Linked DNA regions of Homo sapiens. The protein of the gene in region 2 interacts with the protein of the main gene of each other region in a pairwise test. Each region holds a gene or a part of one and is shown on either strand. Other genes may lie near its edges.

What was found.
Region 1: the proteins of BTN3A2 (region 2) and CLDN2 interact in binary tests that used the Homo sapiens proteins (3 or more experiments, as listed by UniProt).

The regions. Positions count from the first base shown.
Region 1 is NC_000023.11:106,911,273-106,927,724, forward strand, and holds the start of CLDN2 (claudin-2), read left to right. Parts: upstream 1-9,129; 5' UTR 9,130-9,279; intron 9,280-16,452. UniProt on the Homo sapiens protein: Forms paracellular channels: polymerizes in tight junction strands with cation- and water-selective channels through the strands, conveying epithelial permeability in a process known as paracellular tight junction permeability.
Region 2 is NC_000006.12:26,354,851-26,371,361, reverse strand, and holds the start of BTN3A2 (butyrophilin subfamily 3 member A2 isoform a precursor), read right to left. Parts: upstream 6,165-16,511; 5' UTR 6,026-6,164; coding exon of another isoform or gene 6,010-6,025; intron 3,388-6,009; exon of another isoform or gene 3,373-3,387; 5' UTR 3,312-3,372; intron 3,185-3,311; 5' UTR 3,180-3,184; coding exon 3,095-3,179; intron 2,798-3,094; coding exon 2,450-2,797; intron 1,041-2,449; coding exon 759-1,040; intron 1-758. UniProt on the Homo sapiens protein: Plays a role in T-cell responses in the adaptive immune response. Inhibits the release of IFNG from activated T-cells.

The DNA.
Region 1 (16,452 bases), on a different chromosome or scaffold from region 2:
GGTGTTTTTGCATACTGGGCCAGATTTGGCTTCCCAGAACATAGCTTCCATCCTGCTCAGACACCCGCAATGGCAGCTCATGAGTGATGGGAATAAGAGGCATTTACATGTTTTCCCTGTTCCTTCAAGCCTCACCTCTGACTCCACCCTGCTCTCCCCCTTACTTCCAGCAGGCTTGTTACTACAGTGTCCCTGCACATGACCATCTCCACCCCCCAAACCCCTGCCAAGACTAGAACACCACTCTTCCCCATGACACAAATTCTGCCCTCCCTTCCAGGTCCTCCTTGAATCCACACTGACTGCAGGAAGCCTCCAAGCCACGCTAACATCTGCGTCCCTCTGCAGGCCTCTCATTTGAGCTTTTCCCCCATGTAGGGGTGCCAGCCCTCTTTTCAGTCACTTTTTTGGATAAGAAGCAAGCCTTTCTATCGAGGTGCTGTGGCTTAATCTTGTCTCCTCGCTCCCATCAGCACCTGGCACAGGACTGGGGACATGGCAGGCGTTCATTTCATGTGAATGGAATGATGTTGACACAGGTAGTTGGTCTGAGAAGACTAATAGATTTAGTCTAGCAAGTAGCCTTGGGGCTCTACGGTAGGGTGGCAGACAGCTATGACAGGTGCATGGGCCAGGGTGGGATTCTCTGTTCATATTGGGGCCTTCTAAGACAGAGCACCCAAGATCCCAGGATACGAGTAGTTACAGAGGGTCGCTGTTGACTTGGCTGGGACAGCTCATGAACAAGGCAGGTCAGGAGTAGGAAAGGGCACAACAACAGCAGAGGTCCTTTGGGAAGGAACCTAGGAATCCTCTCCTCCTCTTCATGCCCAGCTGTCTCCTCTACTGACAGGACATTTCTAAGCATAATTAAAATTTCATCTCCACTCTTTCCCAGACCTCTTCCCTCCCTCTTCCAGCCTCAGCCTAGACCAGCAGCCCTAAAAATGTGGTCCAAAGACCCAGGGAGCCCCTAAAATTCAGGAGGTTCAGTCAAAACTACTTTCATGGGGCTGGGCATAGGAAGTATATATGGATATATAAAGCACTTCTGCATACTGAAGTGCAATTGTCATGAGGAAAAGCACTTGCACAATTGACTTGCAAGCTAAACTAGCGAATTTTTTATGGAACTCTTTTTTTTTTTTTTTTTTTTTTTCAGACAGAGTCTGGCTCTGTCATGCAGGCTGAAGTGCAGTGGTGCCATCATGGCTCACTGCAGCCTCGATCTCTCAGCCTCAAGCGATCTTCCCACCTCAGCCTCCCAAGTAGCTGGGACTATAGGCTTGCGCCACCATGCCCAGCTAATTGTTTTATTTTTTTAGCAGAGACACAGTGTCGCTATGTTGCCCAGGCTGGTCTCAAACTCCTGGGCTCAAGCATTCCACCTGCCTCAGCCTCCCAAAGTGCTGGGGAGCACTTTATTTTTTTTTTTACTTGAATGATTGACAGATAAATTGTGGTTATTCAAACTTGGGTGCTTGGCAAGTATTTTGTTAAAAATGGACAAAATGATCCTGTCACCTCAAGGAAAACAACTGTTACTATTTGTTGTCAATGATAAAAGTTACGCTTTCAAGTAAAAAGCACAATTTTGGAAAACCTGTATCAGCCACTGTGAGCTTGAGAGCTTCTCAATATCCTAAAGAGCTTTCTAATAAGATTAGTAGGGATACTAATGAATGTGATTTTTTAATATTGTAGAATCAAAAAGCGAGTCAGCAATGGGAAGATCTGCATAAGTGGGTGGACCGATATTTTCCAGATGACTAATGCATGATGTTACAAAATCATGCATGGATAACAGATCCATTCAAAGTGCAATTGATTTTTTTTTTTTGAGACAGAATCTCACTCTGTTGCCCAGACTGGAGCACAGTGGCACAATCTTGGCTCACTGCAACCTCCACCTCCCAGGTTCAAGCAATTTCCATGCCTCAACCTCCCAAGTAGCTGGGACTACAGGCATACACCACCAAGCCTGGCTAATTTTTGTATTTTTTCTACAGACAGTGTTTTGCCATATTGGCCAGGCTGGTTTTGAACTCCTTACCTCAAGTAATCCACCCACCTCAGCCTCCCAAAGTGCTGGGATTACAGGTGTGAGCCACGGTGCCTGGCTGACCAGTAGATTTTAATGTAACAGAGTACAAAAGGTTCACCGATACGGTTTAGTTTCAGATTCAACATTGCAAAGAAACATTAAGAAACAACCACTTGTGAAGTTTAGGTGTAGTTATCAAGAAGAATCCCCACACCATTTATTAGTTTTGTATTGCTGCCATAACAAATTACCACAAACTTAACAACTTAGTACGATGCCCATTTATCATCTCGCAGTTATATAGGTTAGAAATCCAGGTGTGTTCACCTGAGTTCCCTGCTTAGGGTCTCACAAGGCTGAGATGAAGTGGTTAGCTGAGCCGGGCTCTTATCTGGAGGCTCTGGGGAAAAGTCCCCTTCCAAGTTTACTCAGGTTGTTAGCAGAATCCAGGTCCTTCAGGGTGTGGGTCTGAGGCCCCCCTGACTTGCTGACTGTCATCCAGAGGCTGCTTATGGCTCCTAGAGGCTACCTACACTCCTTCTTACGCAGCTCTCTCCATTTGGAAACCATCAACGGCATAGTCAAGTTTGCATCTCTCTCACTTCCGACTTCCTTTTCCACCACTAGAAAACTTTTTTTTTTTTTTTTTTTTTTGAGACAGGGTCTCGCTCTGTGGCCCAGGTTGGAGTGCAGTGGTGCAATCTCGGCCCACTGCAACCTCCACCTCCCGGGCTCAAGTGATTCTCCTGCCTCAGGCTCCCAAGCAGCTGGGATTACAGGCACACACCACCACGCCCGGCTAATTTTTGCATTTTTAATAAAGTGGGTTTTGCCATGTTGCCCAGGGTAGTCTCAAACTCCTGAGCTCAGGTGATTCACCCACCTCGGCCTCCCAAAGTGCTAGGATTACAGGTGTGAGCCACCGCACCCGGCCACAAACCCTCTTTTAAAGGATTCCTGTGATTAGGTGAGTACAACCTTGATAATTTCCCTTTGCCATATAACTAACACAAACATGGGAGTGATATCTCATCAGAAACACTCCCAAAAGAGAAGAAATTTATAGGCATGTGAGGGACATTTGGGGGTCATTCTTAGAATTCTGCCTAAAAGGACTATTAAATACCCCCCTTCTCTACCTCCCTATCTTTGTGGGGCTGGATTTTCTTCACACACTTCAACCAAAAACCACATATTGCAACAGCTGGAGTGCAAGAGCAGATATGAGAATCCAGCTGCCTTGTGCTCAGCCAGACATTAAAGAGATTTGCAAATATTGAATATAATGCCACTTTCTTGCCATTTTTTTGTTTTGAAAACTATAATTGTCATAAATATATATTATTTATGTTATAATGTAATAGGTTTATAATTTTTATTTTAAAGTAATACATAAATAGTTAAAATGTAAGTTTTAATTATAAATATGTTCAATGTCAATAGATATAACCCTTTGGAGGTTAGACAAATAAAAGCCCTTTGGAGTCCTCAATAATTTGTTAACTAATATCTTTTATTTGTTTATTTTTAAATTTGCATAGATATTAAGGTGCTGAATGACAAAATGTGGAGGGATGTATAAAATTCACTCTTTTGGGTGTGCAGCTCCATGAATTTTGACAAATGCATAGAATTATGTAACAACAATTAAGAGTTTCAACACCCCAAATAATTTCCTTATGCCACTCCATTGTAGTAAACCCCTTCCACTACCCCAACTCCTGGCAACCACTAATCTATTATCCATCCCTAAGTAGTGTCATTTCAAGAATGTCATATAAATAGAACATAACAGTAAGCAGCTTTTTGAGTCTGGCTTCTTTCATTCAGCATAATACATTTGAGCTTCACCCATGTAGCTGTGTGTATCAATAGTACATTCCTTTTGATTGTGAAGTAGTATTCCATTACACAGATGTACCAGTTTATTCGTTCACTAGTTGAAAGACATTTAGGTCATTTCCTAAATAAGAATGTAAAGTGGTCCTGAGACCAAAATGTTGAGACCCATTGACAGAATGTGCTCTTCCCAGAGCTCTCCTCAATTGGGATTTTTGTGGACCAGTGGAATTACAAAATTTTTTAAAATGAGGGAGAATCAACATATGGTTTTCAAACTTTTAATTTTGTTAATTAAGGGCATTGAAAAATACTACCACCTCTTATTTTACAAAAGAAACCTTAATACCAACTATTCAAAGAATAAGTCCGGAATTACAAGTAGTCTTTTAAATTGAATAAGCTTTAAATAATTTACAAATCTTGCTACATTGGCCTTAGTTTTCTCCTATTGGTGATCCTCTACCACTCCCTTCCTTTCTTCTTAAGTCTGTGCATTAGTGCTTAGGAAGCCCTTGCTCAACATTTCTCCTCCTAGATCTGCTTATCCATTGCCTCTCAAACCTTTATTCTCTCTTTCCTCCCAGACATGTCTTCATGAGCCCTTCTCCTGCCTCCCCTCCCAGAACTTCTCTTCTTCACCCACCTTTCTCTTACATAATCATTTTGTCTCTCCTTCCTCTTCTCCTGGACCCCTTTCTTCCCAGACCCATCTAGTGTTTCCCTTCTTACCACAATCTCTTCTCAGTCTGATTCCATCAATTCAATGGTGCACCTACTATGTATTAGACTAGAATAGTGATGAAAATAACAATTGAAAGCCAAACCCAATGTGCACAACAAACCCCCATGACATGTTTACCTATATAACAAACCTGCACATATACCCCTGAACCTGAAATAAAAGTTGAATTAAGAAAAAAAAAAAAAAGCCAAACCCTTCAGGCATTCACAGTCCTATGCAGGAGTAGCAACAACAAATACAACCCAAGACAATTGGTGGGGGGATAACAAGATGCTTTGGGAGCATAGAGGAGGAATATCCAACCAAGAGACCCCAGGAATCAGGGAAGCAACCGTTAAGCTGAGCCCTAAAGGATAAGGAGTTTTCCAGACAAAACCAGCTGAAGGTGGAGTAGGGCCAGGGTCCACAAAGAGTTCCAGGCAGAAGGAACAGGACTTGTAAAGGCCTAGAGGGAAGGGAGAGCATTGTAGGCTTGAGAAACTGAAAGGAAGCCAGTCGGGAGAGTGGGGAGTGAGGAGAGTAGTACAAAACCAGTTTGGAGAGCTAGGTAGGGGCCAAATCATACTACTATGTGGAGAATGGACTGTAGAAAGCCAAAAGGAGAAATAGGAAAATCAGAAGGGTATTGCATCCCGGTGAGAGATGATGCTAAGGGGAGTGGAAGTCGAAACCAGCAGATGGACAAAAAAGCTAAATTTTGGAGGTAGAATGGGAAAGATTTACAGGTCTGATACAATGAGGGTCAGAGAAAGTGGAATTAAGGCTAACTCTGAGGTTTCTGGCTTAAACAATTGGCTTTCTCAAAGGGAGAAGACTGAAGGAGGACTGATTTCAGTTCAAAGGGAAATCAAGGATACAATTTTGAGGCTGGGCATAGTGGCTCACACCTGTAATCCCAGCGCTTTGAGGGGCTGAAGCAGGAGGCTGGCTTGAGCCTAGGAGTTTGAGACTAACCTGTGCAATATAGTGAGACCCCATCTCTACAAAAAAATTATAAAAATTAGCTGGGCGTGGCGGCACATGCTTGTAGTCTCAGCTACTTGGAAGGCTAAGGCAGGAGGATCCCTTCAGTCCAGGAGTTCAAGGTTATTGTGAGCTGTGATCATGCCACTTGCATTCCAGTCCAGGCAACAGAGCAAGACCCTGGACATGTTGCATTTGAGACAACTTTCAGCTATCCAAATGGAGATGCCAGTATATAAAGGTCTGAAGCCCAGAGAAGTCTGGGCTGAAAATGATGATTTGGAAGTCGTCAGATGATAGAGGATAACTGAAACCACAGAGGATAAATGAGACTTCCCAGAATGGGAATGCAGAGTGAGGAACGAGGACTTAGGTCAGGCTCCTGAGAAGTGCCCATATTTAAGGGTCTGGCAGAGGCAGAGGTACCAATGAAGAAGTACCCAGAAAGATAAGAGGGAAACCAGAGGAGTGTTGTTATCACAGAGGCCAAGAGGAGAAAGTATTTCAAGGAAGACAAGGTTATCAAGGGCATTGAATGTTGCATAGAGGTCATGGAAATTAAGGACTAAAAAGTGGCCATTGGATTTGGTGACATGCGGTCATTGGTAACTGTGACAAGAACTTCTTTTGGTGGAACAGTGAGGGTGAAATGTCTCTAAGTCTCTCTCTGCCCTAGACCCTAACTCCTTCTCCCAGAGTCCATCCCTACACCCTCTTCCTTAGAGTCTCTTACTTCTCCTTCTAGACTCCTCTTTTCATAGCATCATTTCCTCCCTGCCCTTCAAGACCTTGCTTTCTACAGAGCTCTCTTTGATTTTCTTCCTCAAAGACCCTTTTTCTCTCTTCTCCTTTTCTCTTCCCCCAAACCACCTCTTCCCATACTCTTATTTCCCTCCCTTTATTCTCTCCCTACTCACTTGTCTCCTGAACTAAATGCTGCTTTTCTCAGACTGCTATTCTTTCCTGTTCTTTCAGCCCCCTCTCCATTCCCGCACCCATCTAAGCTCTTTGGATCTCAGCAGGGGTCTTGGCAGAAGGATTACTAAAGAACCTCCTAGGCTCAACACTGAGGAGTCATAGTATTTGGCATGATTCCACCAGGATCTGACAATGCCGACCTGAAGGAAACACAGTGTTAGAACCCAGTCCTTGAATGATTGCCAATCTGGAAACCACATCCTGCCAACACAGTCTCCTCATCCGCCCTGGCACCTGCCCCTAAGATTCTGCCTTTTCCTATCCTCAATTGCACAGTCACTATGAACTGATAAGGTGCCCCTCTACTACATTCTGCATTCAATCAGCATTTTCTACTTGTCAAAATGCATTCACATTCATTCACCCAGCCTTGGGAATTCGGCTGGGTGAAGCCTGGGAAAAGAAAATGGAGAGGCTTGCCTGAGGTCACATAGTTGGTTAGAGGATTAGCCTGGTATCCCTCCCACCCCTTCAGCCTTGCTTGCTTTCATGCCCAAAGACTCCCCAGGCCTGAGCTCAGGCATGGCTGCCCTTTTAGCGTGTCCCAGCCTGCCAAGAGGGAGTGCCCTGGAGAGACCCTTGCTCAGGAGCACTGCCAGGGGATCAGTGCCCCATTTGTACCTGCAAGGTAGGGATGGGCCGCCTTGGGAAGGAGGATGATTTCTGGTTTGCTTCACTGAGTTCACCCTAGGCAACAAATCCGACTGTTTGCTTTGATATGACTTGAAAAATAGAGTCAAGCATAATGACTATGAGGCAAGCTCTAGAGGTGGCCAGGTTTGGTACCCAGGCCTTGCTCTGTACTAGCACAGTGAGACCATGGATAGGAAACACCTCAGCACAGTGCCTGGCACCTAGCAAGTGTTCAATGAACCGTGGCCTTATCATTTGTACATGGGAATCCTTGGGAGGGAGTTGGTGTTGTACACTGCAAAGTTTGCCAAGCTAGATATCTACAGACCTAGATTCCAAGTCTAACTATTACTGCTCAACTTGGGATGTTGGGCAACTCTTTTCATCTCATTGGGCCGAGGTTTCCTCATCTGGAAATAGTAATGGCTGTCTTATTTTTGTAACATGTTGTATTGGCCTTTAAAACATGCACACTCTTTCACCTAGCAATTCTATTCTTAAGACTTTGTCAGTATTATGTGCAAAGATGCTGGGTTATAGTGAAAATGAAAATAACAAAACGTCTAGTAGTTTACGATTAAATAAATCATATTTTATATGATAGAATGCAGTGCAGCCATGACAGAATGATGTAGTTCTGTGTTTTAATTGACATGGAAATAGGTCCACGATATGTTATTTACAAATGATGTAAGGTTACATAAACTGTAGGTATAGTGTGATTCAATTTTATAAAACAAATCCCATCGATATCTTCTACAATACATCAAAATGTTAGCAATGATTATTTCTGGCTGGTGGCATTATGAGGACCTCTATTTTCTTCTTTATAATTCATTTTCTGAATTCTTTTCAATAGCATCTAGTATTTTTCTACTTAGAAAAAACTAGAAAGCTTTTTTGCGTTGGGAGAGTAAAGCCAGTCACTGCGCTCTACTACTCCACAGCATGTTTTTTTGTTTGTTTGTTTTGGTTTGGTTTTATTTCTGTTGTTGTTTGGGTTTTTGTTTGTTTGCTTTGCTTTTTTGAGATGGAGTCTCACTCTGTCACCCAGGCTGGAGTGCAGTGGTATGATCTCGGCTCATTGCAACCTCCGCCTCCTGGGTCCAAGTGATTCTCCTGCCTCAGCTTCCCGTGTAGCTGGGACTACAGGTGCGCACCACCACATCCAGCTAATTTTTGTATTTTTAGTAGAGACAAGGTTTAACCGCGTTGGCCAGGCTGTTTTCGAACTCCTGACCTCAGGTGATCCACCCGCCTCGGCCTCCCAAAGTGCTGGGATTACAGGCGTGAGCCACTGCACACGGCCTTCACAGCACTTTTGAGAGGCTTAAATGACATAGTGCATGGCACTGCCATGTGTGGTAAAAAGGAGAGCCCTGTCCTTATGCTGGCCTACTCAGTTCCACCTTGTAGGACCTGCTCTTTGAACTCAGAGTCTGAACCTACAGTACCCATGTTTGCCCTTGAGCCTTGGGACCAACCTTAGGGGTGGGGTAGGGCTGAGGGCCTGCCAGAGAATCAAGCTGAGTAGAAAAGTCTATGGAGCTGCAGGCCATGCAGGGCTGCTTGGGCACTGGCTCACCAGGGCTGTGTTTATGCAGCTTACTCCCTGCTGGGCTTCAGGGCTGCTAGCCAGGGACACCTAATTGGTGGGACAGAGCCCCCTCCTCTCACCACCCTCAAAGCTGGAATGTTCTGAATTCCTTCTTGGGCCAAATCCCCCTCCCCACAAGGCCTCTCCTGGGTTCACAGAGGTCACCACACAAAAGCCCAGCTGGAGTGGAGTTTTTGACAGAAAAAAAAAAACACACACAGAAAACCCACCAAACCTTTTTTTTTTTTTTTCTAAAGTGCCTCAATCTTTCCCAGCCTCCAGGGGTTTAATTCTGATCTGTAATAAGTCTCTGACCCACGGCTCAGATTTGCAGATGGATTTTGCAAAGCTGTGGTTAACGATTAGAAATCCTTTATCACCTCAGCCCGTGGCCCCTTGTACTTCGCTCCCCTCCCTCAGGATCCCTTTCTCCCTCTCCAGGGGCATCTCCCCCTCCAAGGCTCTGCAAAGAACTGCCCTGTAAGTATCTCCATCCTGATATAGTTGCTGCCTTTTAAATTCACCGAGGTGGGCACTCTTCCTTCCTAGTCACTATCCATTCACCCCATGGTGGAGCCAGGCTGGGCCACCTTGGGTTTCTGAGTGAAGGGTATGGGAGGGGAAACTCCGGTGGCATTTGGGTTGGTGGTATTTGTTCCCTCAAAGCTATCACAAAGGTTCAAATCTTTAAAACTTCAGGACCAGAGAAAGCACTCTCCAAATCAGATATTTTCTGGTTTGGGGGCTTAAAAGGACTGGGATAAAAATTGGAGGAAGGGAGCCACAGTTTACCCCTCTGCCTAAGTGTAGGGGACTGAGGAGTGGCAGAAGGGGCACTCCCTCACAGCCAGCTCCAGTGCCCTCCTTGGCATGAAGGCTCAGGGAGGTAGCAGAAGGTGGGTTCCTAAGTGAAGTCATAAAGTTTCCCCATGAGGTCCTTCAAGGACTCTCCCTCACTGGTCTGCAAGTCTGTCATTAGAAATTCCTTCTTTCGACTGAGGTATTACTCTCTTCAAGTGCCCTCTTTGAAAATGCAGTTGGAACCAAAACATTCACAGCACTTATGGCCGGGGAGATCGTAGGCGATTTTTGTTTTCTAAATTCTGCCTTTCTGTGTTTTCCAGTGTTCTAAAGTGAGAATGCTTTACTTTGATGATCAGGACAAAAATCAACTTCTTTTTCAAACAATAAGAAAATCTCTCAATCCAGTTGCAATTCTCTGAACTGCCATCAATCAATTGATGTAGAAGGAAAGATGAACTGCTCTAAGGACAAACTTTCAAGAAAGTAGGGCCTCAAGGGAATGGCTTTGCCACCTACTAGTGCCCTTGGCAGCTGGAAGTGAGTTTCAGAGAAGGGGGCAAGTGTCTCAGATTCTTATGAGGGGCAGTGAGATCAAGGGATATAGAAATGAGGCTGACTGACAGAAGAGGGCTGTGGTGGCCATCATCACCCCCAGAAGGCCACATCAGTTCCTTCCTTGAGCCTGGGAACCCCAAGTGCCCTGTCCCATGTAGTCTTAGGAGGGTACTGCCAAAGAAAGAGTACCATGCACAAGACTCTTGGAGCAAGAGATGGGGAGAATAGCAGGGAAAGTACCTAGGTGAGAAGGGGTTAAGTCAGGAGCTGCGGTCAATCTTGACCCTCCTAATCCTCTCCTGCAGCTCCAATCTCCCCACTAGGGAAGATTAAGTAAGGATCCTAAGTTAAACTTTCTTGCCCAGTCCTTGGGCCATGGAGTATGTTGGCCCTATGCCCAGAAGACAAATTCAGCTGACAAGGCCTAGAGTCCTCTGTACCTCCAACGCAGCCAGTACTTGACTTCTAGGAGGATCCCTCAAAGAGAGGCTTCTATTAAAACTGGCTGCTTCTAATAACAGCTCTTCAGTCTTCTATATTTGTCAAAGTGGCTTCCTGTCCCCATGCCTTTATTTGAGACTAAAAATCTTGGAGATGACAAACTAGGGCCTAGAGAAGCTATAGGACTTCCTCAGCAGGTTCTAGGCAGAACTGACACAACAAGAAGCTAGATCTTTTGATTCTAACACCAGGACCCTGTCTGCCCTCACCTCTACTGCTCATCAGACAAACAAAAACCTGGCTGAATCCAGCCTGTCTCACCACCCAACCATTCGCCATTTAGCTGGTCTTCCTAACTCTGGTGGAAAGCTGAACCCCCCCTCCATGGGGCCATTTCTATCACTTGAATAAGCTCCAATAACTTGTTCTTCCTCCTGCCTGGGCATGCTGCTATGCCAAGTCAGACTCTAGAGATTCCAAGCCTCAGTAATGGCATTTTCTTGACTCTGCCCTCTCCCTCACCCCAAAACACTTGCCTACTTACTACTACTTAGGACAGGCTCTGGGGAGAGGCTTTCCTCTTGGGGACACTGTTGATTCCCTTGGGAAACTCAAGCTTGACTCTTCAGCTGCCATCCCAGGAAGGCTGAAGCAGGAGCTGCTCCTCTGGGAAGCAGTAGGTCTTCCCCTTGAAAACCTCAAGGTATCTCACCAATTCTCACTGAAAGCTCAGATACAAATAGGAGGAAGAAAGGAAAAGTATTGAACCCAGCCTGGGTGAGGAGCAGGGAGGGCCCAAGGATGGTTTCAAGGCAAGGATGCATCCTCAAAGATGATTTGCAATTATCCAAGCAAATGGTGGATGGTAGAATAGCATGCTTACGGGCTTGGAGACAGAGAGAAAGGCAGTCAGAGAAATTCAAGTGCTTAGGTTTGGCTGGATCATATGTGTATGTATAGGAGCATAAAGCATGAGGTTGGAGGTTAATGGTGTGAGATGAGGCTGTGAAGAAAAGCCGGGGTGAAATAATGGAGGGCTTTCTTGGTTTCCTGGGCTAGCAAGTTTGAACTTCATCCTGAAATACTTAAGAGCTCTGAAGATTTTTTTTTTTTTTTTTTTTTGAGACAAAGTTTTGCTCTATCGCTCAGGCTGGAGTGCAGTGGCACAATCTCGGCTCACTGCAACCTCCACCTCCCGGTTCCAGCGATTCTCCTGCCTCAGCCTCCCTAGTAGCTGGGATTACAGGCACATGCCACCACGCCCAACTAATTTTTGTATTTTTCGTAGAGACGGGGTTTCACTATGTTGGCCAGGCTGGTCTCAAACTCCTGACCTCGTGATCTGCCCGCCTCGGCCTCCCAAAGTGCTGGGATTATAGGCGTAAGCCACCGCACCCGGCTGAGCTCCTGAAGATTTTTAAGCATGGCAAAGCGTGAGGTGAAAGTCACAATTTGATTTCAACTTTACAAAGATCTTTGACTACTGGGTAGGTAATTCATTATTGCAGGATTGGGGCAGAAGTGGAATTAGAGAGATCAATTTGAGGTGTCTATGAGATTTTCAAATAGACAAGAAACGATGGTTGCATAGTCTGAACTATGGTTTAGGGCAGTGGCGACAGAAAGAAGTAGATGGATTCACAGTCTATTTTTGAAGGCAGACCTGATGGTACATTATAATTAATTATATGTCAACAAGAGGTGAAAAAGCAAGGATGACTGGCTTGGGTTATTAACTCAGTGACAGCCCCACTGAGGTAAGGAACACTGCATGAGGAGCAGTTTGGGCATGGGGAGCAAAAAGGGCAGATGATTCCAGCTTTGCAAATGTTGAATTTGAGGCCATTAAAACATTCAGGTAGGGCCATTCCAAGTAATAGTTAACTACACAAATCTTGAGTTCAGGAGAGAAATCTGTGGCAGAGATATGAATTCAGGAGTCACTGGCATGGAGACAGAGAGGATGAGATAACCCATGAAGAATGTGAAGGATAAGAAGAGCCATCTAGAAGTCGAGATGAAACCCTGAGGAGGCTAGAGGGGCAGAGATGGATAGTTAGACTTAAAGAGTGAGCAGAAGAAGAGGAACTTATAAGGGAAAACTAGAAGAATCATTTTGAGAAGTAGTTAAAATGGAGTGGTGTTACAGAAAACAAGGGAGAAGATAGTTTTATGAAGGAGAGAGACAAGGTGAGATGACAGAGATATGATCATTGAATTTTGGATCAAGAAAAGAGTTGATAACTTTGGTGAGAATATTTTCAGTGGAGGGCTAATGGTGGAAGCCAGACTGCAGAGGGCTGAGCAGTGAGTGGGAGGGTGAAGAAGTGGAGACATCAATAATGAATGGCTTGTTTAAGGATCTTGGCTGCAAAGAGAATGATCAAGATAGGAGTAATAGCTGCACAGGGAGGAGGTAGAGTAGGGAGCTCAAAAAGTAGTAGTAAATGTTTGAAGCAGTCATCAGAAGGGTGCTTACCAGGGAGAAGTAGAAGGATTTCCAAGCAGCACTGAAGGCCTCAATGAGATACATAGTCATGATCAGGACAGGTACAATTGTGCCAAGGTTAGCAATAAGAAACCAATGTCAAGAAAGACTTGCTAATGAGTGACAGAGGTGAGATTCAAACTATGTTTCTCTCCCTTCATCAAATGTTTATCGGCTCCTGCTCTGCACTGCTTTGCATCAACACTGGCATTGGTGTTTCCAATGCTGATGAATCGTATTGACTATCAATCATGTGCCCAATGCTGTGGAAGCATGATAGACATTTAATATATATTTTTTCACCCTTAAATTGTTTAGAATTTGGTTGAGGAGACAAAATATTCCACAAATGCATATATATTATAAATATATATAATATACATTATATATATACATAGTGAAGCTCTGCTGTCTCTCTCTCCCCCCTTACCTCTTTCTTCCTCTGATCCCCCATCTCTCTCTTTCTTCTTTCCCAACGTTGGGCAGCACTTCAATGACCCTTACACTGAAGCGTTATTGACTCATTTGGAAAGTCCCTATATTTTAGTCATATGGAGCCCCTCAAACCTCTTTGCCAACTTCATTCATTTATTAAGAAGACAGTTTTTGAATTGCTGCTCTGGATAAAGCAGTATGTAAGGCACATGAGATACAGAGATACATAAGATATAGTCTTGCCCTCAAGTAGCTCACAGGCTAATAGGGAAGAATGAGGGTTTAAACAGGAAATTGCAACATAATGCAAAATGTACTATCTCTGCCTCAGTTTCTTCATCTATACAATAGGGATTATTAGTGCCTACCACAAAAAAACCTGTGACGACTAAATAAGTTAGCATGTAAAAAGTGCTTATAATGGTCCCATAAGAAACACTACATAAGTGTTGCTATTATTATTATTACTATGATGGAAGTAAACACAAGATACTGTAAGAATAGACAGGAGGGGTACTTGACCCAGGCTAGAGTAAGAGACATCTGTGCTGAATCCTAAAAGATGAGAAGGCACTAAACAGAGGAAGAAGAATACATAACACTCTGCATAGAATATTCTGTTCTATTTCTATTTGGGAGCAAAAGACCACATGGCATGATTGAAGAACTGGAAGTAATTTAATTCCACAATAGTACAGACTATGAGGAGGGAAATGGCAAGAGATGAAGCTTGAGAGGTCATGGGGTAAACCAAGCAAGTTTGGACTTTACTTTTTAGCAAATGGGGAGCCACTGGAATGCTTTATGTAGAGTAGTGACTCGATCAGATTAATGTGTTGAAAGATCACCTTGGCAATGATGTGGAGAATGAATTGGGAGAAAGACAAGTTAGAAAGCTGTTGCTATAATCCAGGTGAAAGAGAATGATGAGGTCGTGCATGGTGGCTCACACCTGTAATCCCAGCATTTTGGGAGGCTGAGGTGGGCGGATCACTTGCAGTCAGGAGTTGGAGATCAGCCTGGCCAGCATGGCAAAACCCTGTCTCTACTAAAAATACAAAATTAGCTGGGCGTGGTGGCGTGCACCTGTAGTCCCAGCTACTCAGGAAGCTGAGGCACAAGAATCACTTGAACCTGGGAGGTGGAGATTGCAGTGAGCTAAGATCACGCCACCCCACTCCAGGCTGGGCAACAAAAGCAAAATTCGGTCTCAAAAAAAGAATGGTGAAACTGAACTAGGGAAGTAGCAGTGGAAATGGAGAGAAAGGAACCATGGATTTGAGGTATATTCATAAGGTAGAACTGGTGGGACATAGGGACTATAGGATGCAGGAGGTAAGTAGAAGAAAGGTGCTAAAGATCACTTTCCGGATTTTGGTCTGGCACAAGTGGATGGATAGAGGTATCATTCAGTGAACACAGGGAACACAGGGAAGAACTGTTTGGGGAAAGCTGCATGGGGGATGTGATGAGTTCACTTTTGGACATGTCAAATTCGAGATGTCTATGAGATTTCCCTGTGGAGATTCTGACTAGGTGATTGCTCTGCCAGTCTTGAAGCTCAGAAGGGTCTATCCTGGAAATTCAGATTTGGGAGGGTCAGTGGATGGGTAGTAGATTAAGTTATGGGGGCAAGATGAGTTTGCTCAGGGACAGAGTGTTAATTGAGAAAAGGATGGACTTCTGAGGAATACTCACATTTAAGAGATGAGTAGGGAAAGAGAAATCTTGAAGAAGGCTAAAATGGAATAGCCAGATTGTGGTGGGTTGAAAAATTAGTGGGTTAGTTCGGGCACGGTGGCTCATGCCTGTAATCCTAGCACTTTGGGAGGCTGAGGCAGGTGGATCACTTGAGCTTAGGAGTTCAAGACCAGTGTGGGCAACATGGCAAAACCTGGTCTCTACAAAAAATACACACACACACACACAACTAGCCAGGTGTGGTGATGCGCTCCTGTAGTCCCAGCTACTTGTGGGGCTGAGGCAGGAGGATCACACACACACACACACACACACACACACACACACACACAACTAGCCAGGTGTGGTGATGCGCTCCTGTAGTCCCAGCTACTTGTGGGGCTGAGGCAGGAGGATCACACACACACACACACACACACACACACACACACACACAAACTAGCCAGGTGTGGTGATGCGCTCCTGTAGTCCCAGCTACTTGTGGGGCTGAGGCAGGAGGATCACTTGAGCCCAGGAGGTCGAGGCTGCAATGAGCCGAGATCATGCCACTGCACTCCAGCCTGGGTGCCAAAGTGAGAACCTGTCTCAAAAAGAAAGAAAGAAAAATTAGTGGATCAGAGGGTCTTGTAGAGAATGGGGAGGTGTGCCCTTGACCCTTAGTGTCCTGAATCTTGGCAACACCGAGGGCTCCTTGAACACGGCAAAATCTTATATGGCTCTGAGATTCCAAAGCATTGACTCAGATACCTGCCTCATGCAAAGCCCTATATTCTAGAGCAGTTTCCCTTTCCTCTGTGGCAGACTCTTGTCCCCCCTAACAGATGGCCCAGGGAATTTCAGGGCCCCCTCTCAGTCCTGGAACCCTTGTTCCAGAGTGCTCCCTCATCATCCAAGAGGCTGATGATGGGAGCATCTATTAGGAGACTGGACAGGAAATGTCTGGGCATGTTATACATGCAGGAGGCCTTAGACTAGGCTGCAGAGGGGGATTTGGGCATGGCTGGGAGGATCTGAACTCTCAGAGTATGGACAGAAGGCTTTGCTGCCCACCCCCATCTACCCTGGAGTAGATTTTCACCATGGGCAGAATGATCCAGGGCTAGGCCACTACTCTCTAGGCCCCTGGAGATTCAAGAGGCCTCTAACAAACTGGAGTCCAAGACTACATTCTAGGATCTGTTCCTCCTGATGTAGTCTGCAGTTTGGCCTCAGTCTGCAATTGAGGGGCC
Region 2 (16,511 bases):
CCTTTTGTGAGTTATTTCCTTTTCTGTGAATTGATAATTCATGGGCTTTGTTAACATTTTTTTTACTTGGTTTCTATTTTATTTTATTTTATTTATTTTTTGAGACAGAGTCTCGCTCTGTAATCCTGGCTGGAGTGCAGTGGTCTGCTCTCACTCACTGCAACGTCTGCCTCCTGGGTTCAAGTGATTCTCGTGCCTCAGCCTCCTGAGTAGCTGGGATTAGAGGTGCACTCCACCACACCTGGCTAATTTTTTGAATTTTTAGAAGAGATGGAGTTTCACCATGGCCAGGCAGGTCTCAAACTCCTGGCCTCAATGATCTGCCTGCCTCGGCCTCCCAAAGTGCTGGGATTACAGGCGTGAGCCACCATGCCTGGCCAAAACTTTTTACTAGGTTTTTAGAATCTCCTTCTGATTCAAGGAGATCAGCTCTTTCTCTATGATATGAGTTTGTAAATATATATATATAACCATTTTGTCATTTCACATTATATAAGGAGCTTATCTTAATGTTTTTCCTCCAATTCCCATTGCCTGTCATACTTTCTGGCAGATAGGAAATGTTCAGAAAATGTTTGTGTTACGAACACCTTTATGGAGGAAAGAAGCTCCCCTGGCACAAAGAGGAGCCTCCAGGTCTGTGCTTTGGGCCTTATATTCAGTGCAGAGACCCAGGTCGACCACAGATATTAACACATCCCCCTTCATTCAACTGCCACAGCTCAGCTCAGAAAACCTGAGGCCAAGCAGGTACTGACCTGCGATGGAAATGCTGGCTGTCTTTTCCAGGCCGAGGAGGGAATTTCTGATGATGCAGGATACACCCTCCCCGGAGCCGCCTCTCATGATCACAGATGCTGCTACTTCATATAGGCCCACTCCATCTGCAACCACAGGTGCTTCCACAGCTGGGATGTTCTCTCCCTTGGCGTTGCTCCACTGTATTTGGGGTTGGGGGTACCAGCCGGTGGACCTGCACTCCAGATGGATCCCTCCATCCTCATAACCCTTCACTTCGACGTGAAGATTAGAACCCAGTGCTGTGGAAGGATAATTTGGCCTAAATTCTGGATAGCTCCTGTATTAGGGAGGGTCTCAATGGGAATCAATGTCAGGCTCAGATTTGATAATTCAAGAGATATTTCATTCAGGAGCTGTTTACAAAAGTGTGGTCATGATGAGGGGAAAACTAAATTTGCTAGTGCAGTATCCCAGGGTCAGAAACAGTGGGGCTATTCCCACCCACCCCAATTACCAGAGGGAGGAGGAGAGGAAGCTGTTTTGAACACAAAAAAGAAGAGATTCATGCATTGAGGACTTCCTTTAGAGGAGCTGTTACCTTCAGCAAGGCAATGCAGCCAGCCTGAGGGTAACTTGCAGTAAGGAAGCCAGTGAATAAGCACCCAGACTTCTTCCTTTTCTCTTCCTCCTATGATTGTCTGCTAGAGATCCCCTTAAACCAAACCTAACCAGCAGCCACAGGGCAAGGGATTGCACTGAGAAAGAGAAAAGCTGTCCCAACATATGGAAACTGACACCGGGTCTCTGTGTCATCCTGTTGAACATAAGCAATTTCACAGAACACAGACAATGGCACTTTGTGACTATGATGGATCATGGGAAAAACAATACCACCCCACATCATATGTGAGCATAGAGAAAAACATGAACATTGTCCAAACCACAGCAGTGACCAAACATCCCCCCTCAGCAATGAGGGATTGCTGCCCCTTCATCAATTACAGCTTTTGTCTCACCCTGGTCTCCTTCTTCCTACATAAGATTGATTAAGGCTCTCACTCAGAATTAACCTGCCCACACCTTCCTGATGGAATCTCATCCAGAGCAGAGGGCTAAGTCTATGAACTCCCCCGGCCCCAATCCCCTAACACAAGCCCAAATTGTATACCAAGTCTGCTCTAACACCTTCTTACTGAGACCCCGCCACAGCTCCCCATGATGTGTGTTCTTCCTCACTGCAACACGTAAGAAATACAGCTAGTTCTACTACAGGAGTATTCCTGGGGATGGCTAGTTGGAGAACACTGGCAGCAGATACAGTCACTATTCCACCTCCCAGGACCCATGGTAGTGTGCACTTGGAGACACAACAGAAGCCATCTGTTACACAACTAAACCAAAATGACTGTGTACCAGTCACTGAAGAGATGGTTTCTTATGCTTCCTATCCCTCGTCCTTCACTTCGCTTATATCTCTGGTGGCCAGAGGAAAGGAGTTCTTTACTTGAGCATGTAGGGTACAGCAGGAATTCTTCCTAAAGGAAAACCTGTGTCTTACTCAAGGGCCTCAGAGAAGCTAAGTTGGGAGGCAGTGCAGGCAATTGCTAGTGAGCAGCCAGGAGTGTCTGCAGTGCTTTTGCAAGAGGGACTCTGCATCTGCTCTAGATCCTACAGAGAAATGTTCTCAGAACAAAACCTGGAGGCTCACCTGCAACCTTCAGCTCCACCAGGGCTTTTTCATAGAAGTCACCATCTTGGAAATAACACAAGTACTTTCCACTGTCAGAGGCTGTGACGTTGTGTATTCGGAGAGCAGCCTTCCCTGCAGTGATGCCATCCCGCAGAATCGAAGTTCTCCCTCGATACGGTGCACTCTGCCTGTCTTCCACTTCCTTTCCATCTGCATACACGTTCACCACCTGCCTTAGGCTGGAACTTACCCACTTCAGCTCCATGGTCTCTGCACTCATGGTCGGGAACAGGTGACAGGGCAGATCAGCGTCTTCACCCACCATGGCCAGGATGGGCCCAGAGGGTCCAAGCACAGAAAACTGAGCTGTCAGCACAAGGGGGAAGCTCCATCAGAGGGTTTTGGAGTTGGGGTCATGAGAGGAAGGGTCCTTCTCAGACAGGGAAGGCGAGATACAGAGAACCTAGAGGGGAACACAATCCTAACAGAAGGACCATTTGTCTCTTTGTGACAGGTGATCCTTCAGGTTGGGATGGACTTCCAGGTATGGGAATGAGTTAAAGGTTCTAAGAGGGCATTTAGGTAATTGTCTGCTTAATTAGGTAATTGAGATAATTGTCTGCTTCAGAAACATAAATGTGGAATCATGGAATCATTCCCTACCTGAGCAAGGAGTGAGCAGCTGGACCAAGAGGAGGGAGACATGAAAGTTGAGCAGAAGGAAAGCCAGGGAACTTGCCATTTTCATCTATGCTGCATATCAAGAGATACCAGAAGGTGTGGGACAGACACTATGGCCTGGAAGAAGCTTTAGGATTCTGCATGGAAATGTCCACTTCCCCAGGGCTAACTCAAATATGGTGACCGAAGAAGATCTTACCTCTGCCAAAAATGTCTGTCCTTGAGTGTCTTTACCTTTGGGTTCCAGTATGGAAAACCATCTGTAAAAATAATATCTGTTATCTGATCAGGACATCTCTGACTCTACTGCATTAAAATATTAAAATATTCATAATCCTATCACTTCCCCACACTTCCCTTGCCAGGTCCAAGCTTCCATCATCCCCCTCTGATTCATGAAGGACCCTCTTCACTGGATTCCCTGGTCCCACCCTTGTTCAGCTCTGTGGGTGTCCAACACTATGGACTCCTCAAGCGTCAAACTCTTGGCCATTACTACAGTCAACTTATGGCCTGGTGGCTCCTGGTGGGATCCAGGCAGACTGCCTGGCAGAGGCTCTGAAGTCAGTCAGGGGCTGAACCCACCACGTTTAATCACAAAGATATTGATTAGGAGAGCTTTGAATAAGACCAGGCTTTACTCATCTTTTCTTTCTTCCCTTCATAAAGTTATTCAACAAATATTTACTGAGCACCCACAATGGGCTGGACCCACTATGGTAGAGTTAGGAACACAAAGAGGGTAGACAATAGGTAAAGGCTCTACAAGTCACAAGCTTGATGATCTCAGTCATGGGACAAAACCATTTCAACTTTAGTTACTCAAAAATATCGAGTATGAGACTTAGAATGTTCACAATTGGCCCAGCAATTCCACTTCCTGATGGTTACTTCAGCGAAGTACTCGCATGGGTGCAGAGAGAAGCCTCTGTGGGAATGACACTGCAGCACTATTTTTAAAGTATAAAAGTGGTTACCAACTGAACCAGCCACTCACAAGAGACTGGTTAGAGGAATGATGGCTCATCCCTAGGAGGAAATTCAATGCAGCAGTTAAAAAGAGTGATTTAATGTCACTAGCCTGGATAATGGAGATATACTAAGTGATTAAAAAGCACCTTGCAGAACTATACTAATGATTCAATTGAAAAACAAAAGCAAAGCTATACATTTCTGCATAACTATATATGTAAATGCCTGAAAAAGTCTAAAATGATGGATGCTAAACTGAAAATTGGAGGTTAAGTGAGTGAAAGGACGCTTTGGCCTTTTGCTTCCTTTACTTTTAAAATTATTGGAATGCTTTAAGTTTAAAATTTTCATGTATTAGTTAATAACTAATTATTATGAGGAATAATAGTGACTGGAACATATTAGCTGCTCAGTAAATACTAACTCCTCAACAGTTTCTCCCAAAACAAAGGAGCATGAGGCCTGCAGCCATCATACCAGCTGCTGTGGGTCTGGGAATGGCCTCTGAGAACAAGGTCTGCAGATGGAGGTGGGGAGAGATGTAGAGGAAGCAAGGGAACAGAGGTCTGTGCAGCTGGTCATGCTCCACCCCTGCCTGGATCTTGCATCCACCATCAGACTAAACATTATATTTCACCACATCTTCTGCTCCTCGAAACTGCTCTTTATTCTCCTAAGGAGAAGGAGGTATTATTAAGCTAAGCTAAAAATTTCTCTGCTGTCCTCAGAGGGAGAACTTTTATTTTTTAGGTTATTTATTATTCATTCTTTCTACTATAGACAATTTTGCCAAAGAAAAAAATATAAAGGAATAAAACCTTAAATACTCTGTAGTTATATACTTTGCTAATGGAAGTGGAAATGTTTCTGGAAGCATTTGGCCATGTACACATGGCAAGTGCCTTTAAAATGTTGTATTATTTGCCCCCAAAATTCCAACTATAAAAGTTAGTGTTGAAGAAAAAAATTTAGAGATTGATGCAAATATTTATGGATAAGGCTGTTCAATCTAGTAAAATCTACAGTAACAAAATGTAGAAACTGAAAAATCCAAAATAAAGAGTTTTAAAAATAATTCGGGTTTTTTATTTGTTTGTTTGTTCTTTTTTCTTCTTTAGGAGCGGCTTTCTGAGTCAGAGTAGGCTCACAGAGACTCCCAATAATTATATATTCATACAATGTAGTAGCTTGTAACCATGGGAAATCATGCTTTAGGTTTTGGGGAAATGATGAATGGAAAGAAAACCAAGTACTATCCCTAAAAGATACCAAAAATGGTTTAATATAAGGATCCAGTGTTATTAAAATTATAAAGAATTTCACTTAATTAAAATTATGATTCCTAATGGTTACATGGAACATGTTTTATGACTGAACCATGCATTGTTTGTCTATTCCCCACCTGTTGAATATGTATGTTGGTTCAGATTTTACTATATTATAAATACTTCTGTAATAAACACATTTACATATAAATCTATGAGGCACATCTCTTTTTTCTTCTTCTTCTTCAGAATTTCTCAGAATAGATGCCTTGAGTTGGCCAGAACAGATTTTAAGGGTTTTTTGTTTGTTTGTTTGTTTGCCCTTTTCTGACCACAATACGTTAAGAACATGCAGTTGGAATATTTCTTCATTCATGTTGTCTCCCTTTCCTTCCACTAAATCCCAACCTCTGCAGTTCCTTATACTTTGCAGTACTTCTCCCGTCTTCCCACGTGCCCATATGTGCATGTGCGAGTGTGCACATGTACACATGTACACACACACACACACACACACACACACACACACACACACACAGGCACTGCACCCCTTTCTCTGGGAGAGTACTCTCCCTGCATGCCCACTCACCACTCTCAGCGATTCAGCCCCGCTCCTCCCATGCGTTGTAGCCCAGGCTCTAATCAATTTCCTGCACTTACCCCTTGGTATTCCCATTGGAGAATCAGAGCCCACAGAATAAAGACGGTCAATCAATAATTCTCCATTCTTTCTATTATGGCTTAGCCTCTCATCCGGAAGAAAGGAAAAAGAGAAAGCAAATATTGTCTTCTCACCATGAGAAACAGTAAGAGTCGCTCTTTGGAAGAATTAGTTTTTTGATTGGCTCAGAGGTGATGTTTCTCATCAGTTGCTGGGCAGAAACCACTGAGGAACGTTGAAATGAAAACTGAAAGTACATTGAATTGTACACGTTGAGGAAAAACTCCAGCCCTACCTCCCTTAGTGTTTGTGTTTCTGTGTTTATCTATTTGAATCATTCTTGTGCGTGGATGTATATAAGTATTTCTTTATATTCACCTGTCTCGTGTCTTTTACATGGTAATAGAAATATTAGCAGAATGGAGTAGGAAAGTAAAAAAATTTAATGTGCAAAGAGAGGAAGATGTGCACTAATTAAGATGCTTCTGTGGCAGTTTGCTTGCATGTAGATAGGTACGTAGAAGAGGAGGATCTTTTTTACAGAGCCTAATAAAGGTATGAATGGAAAGAAAATGAGACAAACTGCACCTCTTTAAGAACTTCTGGCATTTAGGCTTAGGATATGGTATCAAATAATATAATTTTTCTGATTTCCAGAGGCAGTGCTGCTTGACATTGTTTTACCTTTCCCAGGAAATTCTTACTGCAGATCTTTCTGAGCATCTTCATTCACCCTCAGCTCCTGGTTTGTGCTATATTGTATTTTCTTGGGTATTTGTTTCTCACGCTGCCAGTGGAGTACATATTCTCTGAAGCTAGACACTCCATAGGCTGTGGTCTCTGTAAGGCTCGTTTCCTGTACACCATCTCTGTAAGGAGTTTATGGGACAATCTTGTTCTCCCTGTGGCTTACGACCTCAAAACACACTTTTTTGGGCTGCAAGCCAGAAATCTCCTAGAGCTAATATGTGACTGGAGCTGATGGGATTTGATTATATTGCAACAGTTTGAATTTAGGCTGTGTGGTATCTGCTTGAGATGGCTGGTTGCTTCTGCAGCGTGCATGCCCCCTTCTTCTTAGTGACAAGGCCTAATTTTCTGGGGTACTGCATCCTGCTCTTCCCCCTTGAAGATAGGGCAGGCCAAGGGACTAAGTTGGAGCCAGCGGTTTGTAGGTGAAAGTTGTGGGCTTGTACTTCTCCCAGAAATCCTTCAAAGGGAGGCCAAAATAGCTGGGAGTGTGAGGGTACACTCTCCCTTCTTCCTTCTTCCTCTTGCCTAGAACATGGACTTTGGACCCGGAGGTGCAGTAGCCCACCCTGGGACCATGAGGCAGCCTTGAGGTTGGAAGCCACACACTGGGACAGCAGAGAATGAAGTCAGAAGCAGGCTGGGGCATGAATGACATATCTGAGGTGCCAGATCAGCCCTGGACTGTCACCATCTAAATTTATTTAAAAAATTTTTTCTTTTAAAATATTTTATTATATATTAGTACTCAGGGTAAATTTCCAAATAAGTTTGTTTTTCATGAAAGGAAAACAAATCCTTGTTTTATTTAAGCCAGTGGTACTTCTGGTCTCTGTTATCAACAGAAAAACACAATTTTTCCCTCCCCCTTCCCCCTCCCCAACAGTTTATTATAAAACTTCTAAAACATATAGCAAAGGTGAAAGAATTTCAGTAAATTCCAATATATCTACCATGTAGATTGTATAATTAATATTTTAGTTTCTTACTTTATTATAAATCCATCCTGCTGTTCACCCCTATTCATCCATCAATATTTGTTTATTTGTTCATTTGTTTATTTTTAAATTCAGACTCTATCAGAAGCTGTGCTGCTTGAGATCGTATTAGTAAGAATGAACATCCCACCTTTGCCTGGAGGGTCCAAGTCACTTTGACACAAAGAAGCAGCCAATGTGCTAAGCTTCAGATTAGGAGTTTCTGAGCCCAACTCTTCATATCTCTGAACTTTGTAGTTTCCAAACTATGAGACCCCTAAGTTCATTTCTCACTCAATGTCTTTGTTTCTTCAGCTATGGGTAGGGATGTGACCTGCTTCTTAAGTTGTTTGGGGAGAACCTAGCACAGCACCTGCACATATTAACTCTTTATGAATGTCATTATTTTCCATTATGAAAGGTTCGGTATCAGCTGGTGCCTGTTGTGGAGTTGGAGTTTTAGTTTGAAGGTGAAGAGAAAATCTTTTTTAAAAATGGCATGAGAAAATGTGTACATTGGAAACAATAGTGTGAAAGGTGCCAGGGAAGATGGGAAGTAAGAGTGCCATTTACATTGTATTCTGTGGAATGATGACGCTATGATTACACAATATAGCCAGTCCTCATTAGAGAATCAGATGGTAGAAGACAAGGAGACCAGGAAGAAAGCTACTGTGACACTCCAGGCAAGAAATGATGAGGCCTTAGGGATGGAGGAGAGGGAAGAGGATTGATTATTATTCTTAATAATAGCTTATACTCACATAGAACCTACCGTGATGTTGGTATTGTGCTTAGAGGTTTACATGCATGAATAATACTTTTGCTTTGTGAAGTTCTGAGCAGAGAAGCCCACTAAGCTCTGCCTGGACTTCTGACCCACAGAAACTGAAGTGATAAAAGTGTACTGTTATTTATTTATTTATTTTTGAGGCAGAGTCTCGCTGTGTTGCCCAGGCTGGAGTGCAGTGGCACAATCTTGGCTCACTGCAACCTCCACTTCCTGGGTTCTAGCAATTCTTGTGCCTCAGCCTACCAAGTAGCGGGGATTATAGGTGTGTGCCACCACGCTGGGCTAATTTTTTATCTTTTATTTTTTGCGTTTTCAGTAGAGATGGGGTTTCATCATGTTGCCCAGGCTGGAAAAGTGTACTGTTTTAAACCACTAAGTTTGTGGTAATTTGTTATGCAGCAATAAATCACGAATGCATTAGGTAAGTGAAACACACAGTGGCAACAAACATGAATATAAAGAAGACAAAGAGAATAACTTGTGTTTCCAGCCCTGACCCGTTGCCTGGACTGCAAGCTTATTATTGACCTGCCTACTCTACATCTCCACGGGAATCTCTAGTAAGCTCCTCAAACCCAACATATTCAAAACTGACCTTTGGATTCTGTGCTGGCTCCTCCTCTGGCCTCCACAAGCGGTTTCTCCCTCATTTTCCCCATCTCAGTAAGTGGCAACTCCATCTGTACCGTTTCTTAGGACCAAAACCTTGTGGTCACCCTTGATGCCCTCCTTTTTCACACCCCACCTGTAAGTTTATCAGCAAAGCCTTTTTATTCTATCTTGAAAATAAATCCAGCATCATAACATTTTCATGGCTCCTCCCTGGTACAAGTCATCTGCATCTTTCCCCTGGATCACTGCAGTAGCTCCCAGCTGGGTCTTCAGGCCTCCATCCACCACCCCTACCCACAGCCCATCTTGGTCTAGCATGTGAAGTAACTTCTTAAAACATAAGTCAGTCCAGTCCTTTTTCTGCTCTAACCTTCCAGTGGCTCCCCTCTCAGAGGTAAAGCCCAGGTCAGCATGATGACTTTCAAGGCCATACATGATCTGGCCCTCAACCCCCTCTGGCCTTGTCACCTCCTCTTCTCCTGATCACCCTGTGTGCTCTGCGCACCCCAGCCTCATTGCTTTTCTTCACACAAACCACAGTGCTTCTGCCTCTGTGCTCTGGCACTGCTGTTCTCTCAACTCGGAATGCTTTTCTCCCAAGTATTCTGTGCCTCGCTCCCCTTGCTCATAACCACCCTATTTTAAACTGTAACTTCCAACCGGGAACGAGGGCTTACAGGTGTAATCACAGGACCTTGAAAGATCGAGGGAGGAGAATTGCATGAGGCCAGGAGTTCAAGAACCTGGGCAGTATGCATAGCAAGATCTCTGTCTTTCAAAAAAAAAAAAAATTAGGCTGCAGTGAGCTATGATCACTCCAATGTACTCTAGCCTGAACAACAGAGCAAGACCCCTTCAAAAAGAAATGCAAGTTCTGCTATTCCAGGTTTATTTCTCTCCTGAGCACTTATCATCATCCAGCACACCATATATATTACTAATTATTTCATTTCCTGTCTGCCTCCTACCACAAGTTATGTTGTTTTTGAATGAGAACTTTCTGTTTTGTTCACTTCTGTGACTCCACCACCTAGAATAGTGACTGGCACATAGTTAGCGTTCATGGATCCTTGTCAAATGAATGAATTAATGAATTGACCAAATAGAGAAGCCTGAGGGAAGCTGGGGTGGGGGCTCCCCGATGTGGGTGCAGAATTAGCCTGAGACAGGAGAAAGAACACCTGCTTGTTGAAATCAGAGGAAACAGATCATGAGGGACAGGTATAGGTGGTGGAGCAGGAAGTTTGGGACCTCCCTTTTCTATTTTCTCTCTGAGGTGGTAGACTGTGGCACCATCTGAGATGTGGGGAAAGGATGTGGTGATGAGGATAACGGCTAACGGTCACTATCACAGATACGCGCTGTGTTCGCACCAGGTGCTCTCCACACCGTATCTCATTCCTAAACATCTGCTAAAGAAGTAGATGTCATTAATTCTATTTCTAGGTGAGAAAAATAGAGTTGCAGAAAGGTCAAGGATCCTGTCCTGGTTTGTCTGAGTGAGTAGAATAGGGGTCACCCAGGTGTGTTGACCAGGGAGAGGAAATGGGTGCAGAGGCATGAAACTGCATGATATGTTTGGGACACTGCAGGTGTTGTGGTCAGGCTGAGGAGCAGCACATTGCCAGGATGTCCAAAGGTAGAGCAGAAGTAGGTGGCCTGGACCACTGAGTGCCTGCAATGCAGATAAAAAGTCCAAGGAGGCCGGGCGCGGTGGCCCACGCCTGCAATCCGAGCACTTTGGGAGGCCAAGGTGGGCGGATCACAAGGTCAGGAGTTCGAGACCAGCCTGGCCAATATGGTGAAACCCCGTCTCTACTAAAAATACAAAAATTAGCCAGGTGTGGTGGTGGGTGCCTGTAGCTCCAGCTACTCGGGAGGCTGAGGCAGGAGAATTGCTTGAACCCAGGAGGGAGAGGTTGCAGTGAGCTGAGGTCGCACCACTGCACTCCAGCCTGGGCTACAGAGTGAGCGAGACTCCGTTTCGAAAAAAAAAAAAGAAAAAGAAAAAGAAAAAGAAAAAAAAAAGTCCAAGAAAGCTGGACTTCATCTTTCAGGCCAGAGTTTCTTCAGCAGAGTTATGTAAAAAACTTGTTTAGACAAAAACTAATTTTTATAATACATCTGAAAATATGTCTTCTAACTACTGAAAGAGATGGGAACTAGTTAAAAAATGCAGCATTAAAAGTTAAAATTTGTTATTAGGGAAGTCATTGGTCACTGATATGATAAACAGTAGTTTCCTTGGAAACTGGAACCACTCCACAACAGTTGATTATAAAGATGTGAACCAGATGATATAGAGTCTGCTTAGGTTACAATTTTTAGATTTAAATTGGCATTAAAATAATTTTTTAAAATTTTAACATTTCTGTCCAGGCGTGGTGGCTCATTTCTGTAATCCCAGCACTTCGAGAGGCCGAGGCAGGCGGATCACTTGAGGTCAAGAGTTCGAGGCCAGCCTGGCCAACATGGTGAAACCCCATTTCTACCAAAAAATACAAAAATTAACTGGCCGTGGGGGCACATGCCTGTAGTCCCAGCTACTCGGGAGGCTGAGGTGGGAGAATCGCTTTAACCCCGTAGGCAGAGGCTGCAGTGAGCTGAGATCATGCCACTACACTCTAGCCTAGGTGACAGGGTGAGACCTTGTCTCAAAAAAGAAAAAAGAAAAGAAAAGGATGATTGTTGCTCTTGGTTGAAGGGAAGCAGGAGCCCAAGGGGTTAAGTGGTTTGCTGGTGGCTGCTGTTGAGAGAAGGGCCATGGTAAACTGAATCCCAGAGGTCTGCAATAAAAGAAGAAAGAGGCTGGGCGTGGTGGCTCATGCCTGTAATCCCAGCACTTTGGGAGGCCAAGGCGGGTGGATCACGAGGTCAGGAGTTCGAGACCAGCCTGACCCATGTGGTGAAACCCCGTCTCTACTAAATATACTAAAATTAGCTGGGTGTGGTGGTACATGTCTGTAGTCCCAGCTACTTGGGAGGCTGAGGCAGGAGAATTGCTTGAACCTGGGAGGCGGAGGTTGCAGTGAGCCTGGGTGTACTCCAGCCTGGGTGACAGAGTGAGACTCTATCTCAAAATAATAATAATAATAAATTAATTAATTAATTAAAAAATAAGAATGAGCCTCCTCTATTGGGAAAGGTCATCCTCTTTGAGCACACAGTTTTGAGAGGGAGAAACTTCCTAATGCTCAGCAGCAAATTTTTTCTATTGCTTAGCCCCAGGCCCCCTCACAATGTGAGGTTTCGTCACATTGGCCAGGCTGGTCTTGAACTCCTGACATCAAGTGATCCGCCCACCTTGGGCTCCCAAAGTGCTAGGATTACAAGCATAAGCCACCACGCCCAGCCGGATCATTTAAGGATATATGAGTAGCTGCACTCACCCCCTTGTTAGAACCTCCAAAAAAGTTCCTTATTTTTCTCATTTTCCAGAATAAAAACAAATTACTTTTAAAATCAGAAAACTCATAAACAGATTACTATTTTAAGGATTAAATCGTCATCCCAGGACAAAACCTGGGTAGCCATAGGCAAATCACTTCCTCTCTGAATATCAATGGTTTCATTTATAAATGAGGTGGTTAGACCACAGTGATTTCTACAGTTCTCGGATGTGCTTAGAAAGCTTTTTTTTTTTTTTTTTTTTTTTTTTTTTAATAGAGACAGAGTCTCACTATGTTGCCTAGGCTGGTCTCGAGGTCCTGGGCTCAAGTGATCCTCCTGCCTAGGCCTCCCAAAGTGCTGGGATTACAGGTGTGAGCCACTGCATTTGGCCTAGAAAGCTTTTTGTTGTTATTAAATCATATGTGCTCTATAATATAGAACATATGATACCACACTTTGGTGACCTATCGATTTCTTCTCACATGTTGTAGTTGCCTTAGAATGTGGAGGCAGCTGGAAGGCACGATGAACAGCAATAGCAGATCACTGGCCTCTGACAACTGTCATTCAGTTGAGAGATGTGGATTAAATATGCCCCCAATTATTATCTGTGTAGTTGTGAGCACATAAGTCAATAGACATAGCGAGTGCTTCCCATGGTTCTATTACTTTATTCCCAAGATTCACACGTGACTATGGCCAGCAGCCTCTGGATATGTTAAGATGAAGGAGATATCAACAAAGCATCATGAAAACATTATTATTATTATTATTATTTTCTTTGAAAGGGAGTCTATCTCTGTCGCCCAGGATGGAGTGCATGGGTGCAATCTCAGTTCACTGCAACCTCCGCCTCCCAAGTTCCAATGATTCTCCTGCCTCAGCCTCCTGAGTAGCTGGGATTACAGGCGCCCGCCACCACTCTTGGCTAATTTTTGTATTTCCTGTAGAGACGGGGTTTCACCATGTTGCCCAGGCTGGTCTTGAGCTCCTGACCTCTGGTGATCCGCCCGCCTCGGCCTCCTGAAGTGCTGAGATTACAGGCGTGAGCCACCGCACCCAGCCGAGCGGAGGTTGCAGTGAGCCAAGATCGAGTCACTGCACTCCAATCTGGGTGACAGAGCGAGACTCGGTCTCAAAAAAAAAAAAGAAAAAAAAAGCCAAGCACAGTGGATCACTTGAGCCCAGGATTTCAACACCAGCCTAGGCAACATGGCAAAACCCAATCTCTACAAAAATACAAAAATTAGCCAGGCGTGGTGGCATGCACCTGTAGTCCCAGCTACTTGGGAAGCGGAGCCTGGGAGTTCAAGGCTGCAGTGAGCCATAATCATACCATTACACTCTAGCCTGGGTGACAGAGTGAGACTTTGTCTCAAAAAAAAAAAAAAAAAAAGTTTTGGCCGGGCGAGATGGCTCATGTCTGTAATCCCAGCACTTTGGGAGGCCAAGACAGACTGATTATTTGAGGTCAGGAGTTCAAGACCAGCCTGGCCAACATGGTGAAACCCCATTTCTACTAAAAATACAAAAGTTGGCCAGCTGCGGTTGCTCATTCCTGTAATCCAAGTGCTTTGGGAGGTCAAGGCGAGTGGATAACCTGAGGTCAGGAGTTCGAGACCAGCCTGGCCAACATGGTGAAACCCCATCTCTACTAAAAATACACAAAAATTAGCTAGGTATGGTGGCTCATGCCTGTAACCCCAACTACTCAGGAGGCTAAGGCAGGAGAATCACATGAACTCAGGAGGTAGAGTTTGCAGTGAGCTGAGACCACACTACTGCACTGCAGCCTGGGCAACAAGAACCAAACTTCGTCTCAGAATAAATAAATAAATAAAGATAGAAAAATTAGCTGCGTGTGGAGGTGCACGCCAGCTACTCTGGAAGCTGAGGCAGGAGGATCACTTGAACCTGGAGACAGAAGTTGTAGTGAGCCAAGATCACGCTACTGCAGTGCAGCCTGGGAAAAAAAGCAAGACTCTATCTCAAAAAAAAAAAAAAAAAAAAAAAAAGGAAAAGAACGGGCTGGGCACGTTGGCTCACGCCTGTAATCCCATCACTTTAAGAGGCTGAGGTGGGTGGATCACCTGAGGTCAGGAGTTCAAGACCTGCCTGAACAATATGATGAAACTCCGTCTCTACTAAAAATACCAAAAAAATTAGCCAGGTGTGGTGGCATGTGCCTGTAATCCCAGCTACTCGGGAGGCTGAGATAGGAGAATCGCTTGAACCTGGGAGGCAGAGGTTGCAGTGAGCCGAGATCACGCCATTGCACTCCAGCCCGGGCAACAACAGCGAAACTTCGCCTCAAAAAAAAAAAAAAAAAAAAAAAAAAAGATGTAGATTTTATTCCCACAAGAGAGAGACAACTTTGCAGGGTCATTTCAAGACAAGGAAATATATTTGGGGCTAAAATATTTTCATTTCTTTCCTTATTTATTATGTGAGGTCATGCCAGAGCCAGGTTGGAAAGCAAACCACGTCACATAGGGTTAAATAAAACCCCTCTGATGAAACTTTATGGTTTGTAGGGGTGACTCCCAAGGTCCCTTAGGGAGGAGTTTGGCCAAGATAAGAAAAAAAGTCAGAGTTTCATCCTCAAAGACAATGTTCCCCTGAAAACTGTTGCTATTTCTATATATTCTTTATTGAACATGCAAGGTATATATCCTGCTTAGAGTAGTGTCAACTGCTGTAACAAATATATGTAAAAGTTTCAGGCCAGGGAAGACGGCTCACTCCTGTAATCCCAGCACTATGGGATGTCGAGAGGTGGAAGGATCACCTGAGCCTAAAAGTTTGAGACAAGCCTGGGCCACATAGGGAGACCCTGTCTCTTTAGAGAGTTTAAAATTTAGCTGGGCATGGTAGTGTGCACCTGTGGTTCTAGATACTCAAAAGGATTGCTTGGATCTGGGAGGTCAAGGCTGCAGTAAGCCATTAACATGCCACTGTACTACAACCTGAGCTACAGTGATACCCTTTCTCAAAAAAAAGAAAAAAAAAAAGAAAGAAAAATAGAAAGTTTCAATGGCTTAACCAAATAGCAATTGATTTCTTGCTCACATACATGTCAATGTAGTTGTTTCCTCTTGGCAGGCAGTTTTCACAGGTGTGACTTCTTTCTGCAGAACTGTTCTCCAAGTGGCCAGGCACTGACCCAGTTCTCCTCCATTTCTTGCTTGTAGTCTGAAGAACAACTGTAGAGTGTGTGGGAATGCCCATATCCTGAGGCAGGGAGGAACTGCCTGAAACAGCCTGGGCCTGGCTCCTGGCTCTCCTAAAGAATGTAACATATTGAATTAAGGAGGAACTGCTAGGACAACCAGAGCCTTGTTCCTCTCTCCCTGAAAGTAGGATGAGATTTACCCAGTGATTCCTGTGGCCCCTGAGGTACTGAGCCTGGGGTAAGCTGCTTTTGGGGCCCCTCAGCTGCAACAACAGTAGGCCATGTGCAATTGAAGCTCCATCCACCCAAGGCAGCTTTCATAAGCCTTGGGAAACTGGCACATAATGAATTCTAGTCTTCTGTTGTCTCTTGCTTCCTATCTGTAAGTAATACATTTGCTTCATGTAACTTGTTGCATGTGAGTGTCTTCTGTCTCACCAGGCTCAGGCAGGTTCACAAAATTCACCAGTGCATGGTGAATCTGGTTCACAAAATTGGTGAAGTGAGCAGGGCCCTCTTTGATAGAACCATGGCTTATTGATGAAGTGGAAGGAATGATACCCCGAAGTACCCAGCCCAGGGTGTAGACATCAACCTAGAGGTGTGCAGGAGCTGGACAAGCAGCCAGATGATTTATAAAAGGAAGAATGAGAGGTGAGATTATAAGCCAACAATAAAATTTGAAGGCCTTCTCACCATCTGAATGGACCTTTCCTCTTGGCCAGGGCATTCCAAAGTTTACCTGATTATCTGGTTCAGGTCATGACAGGAAAGAAGGGCCAATTATACCCCACTCAAGTTTGGCTT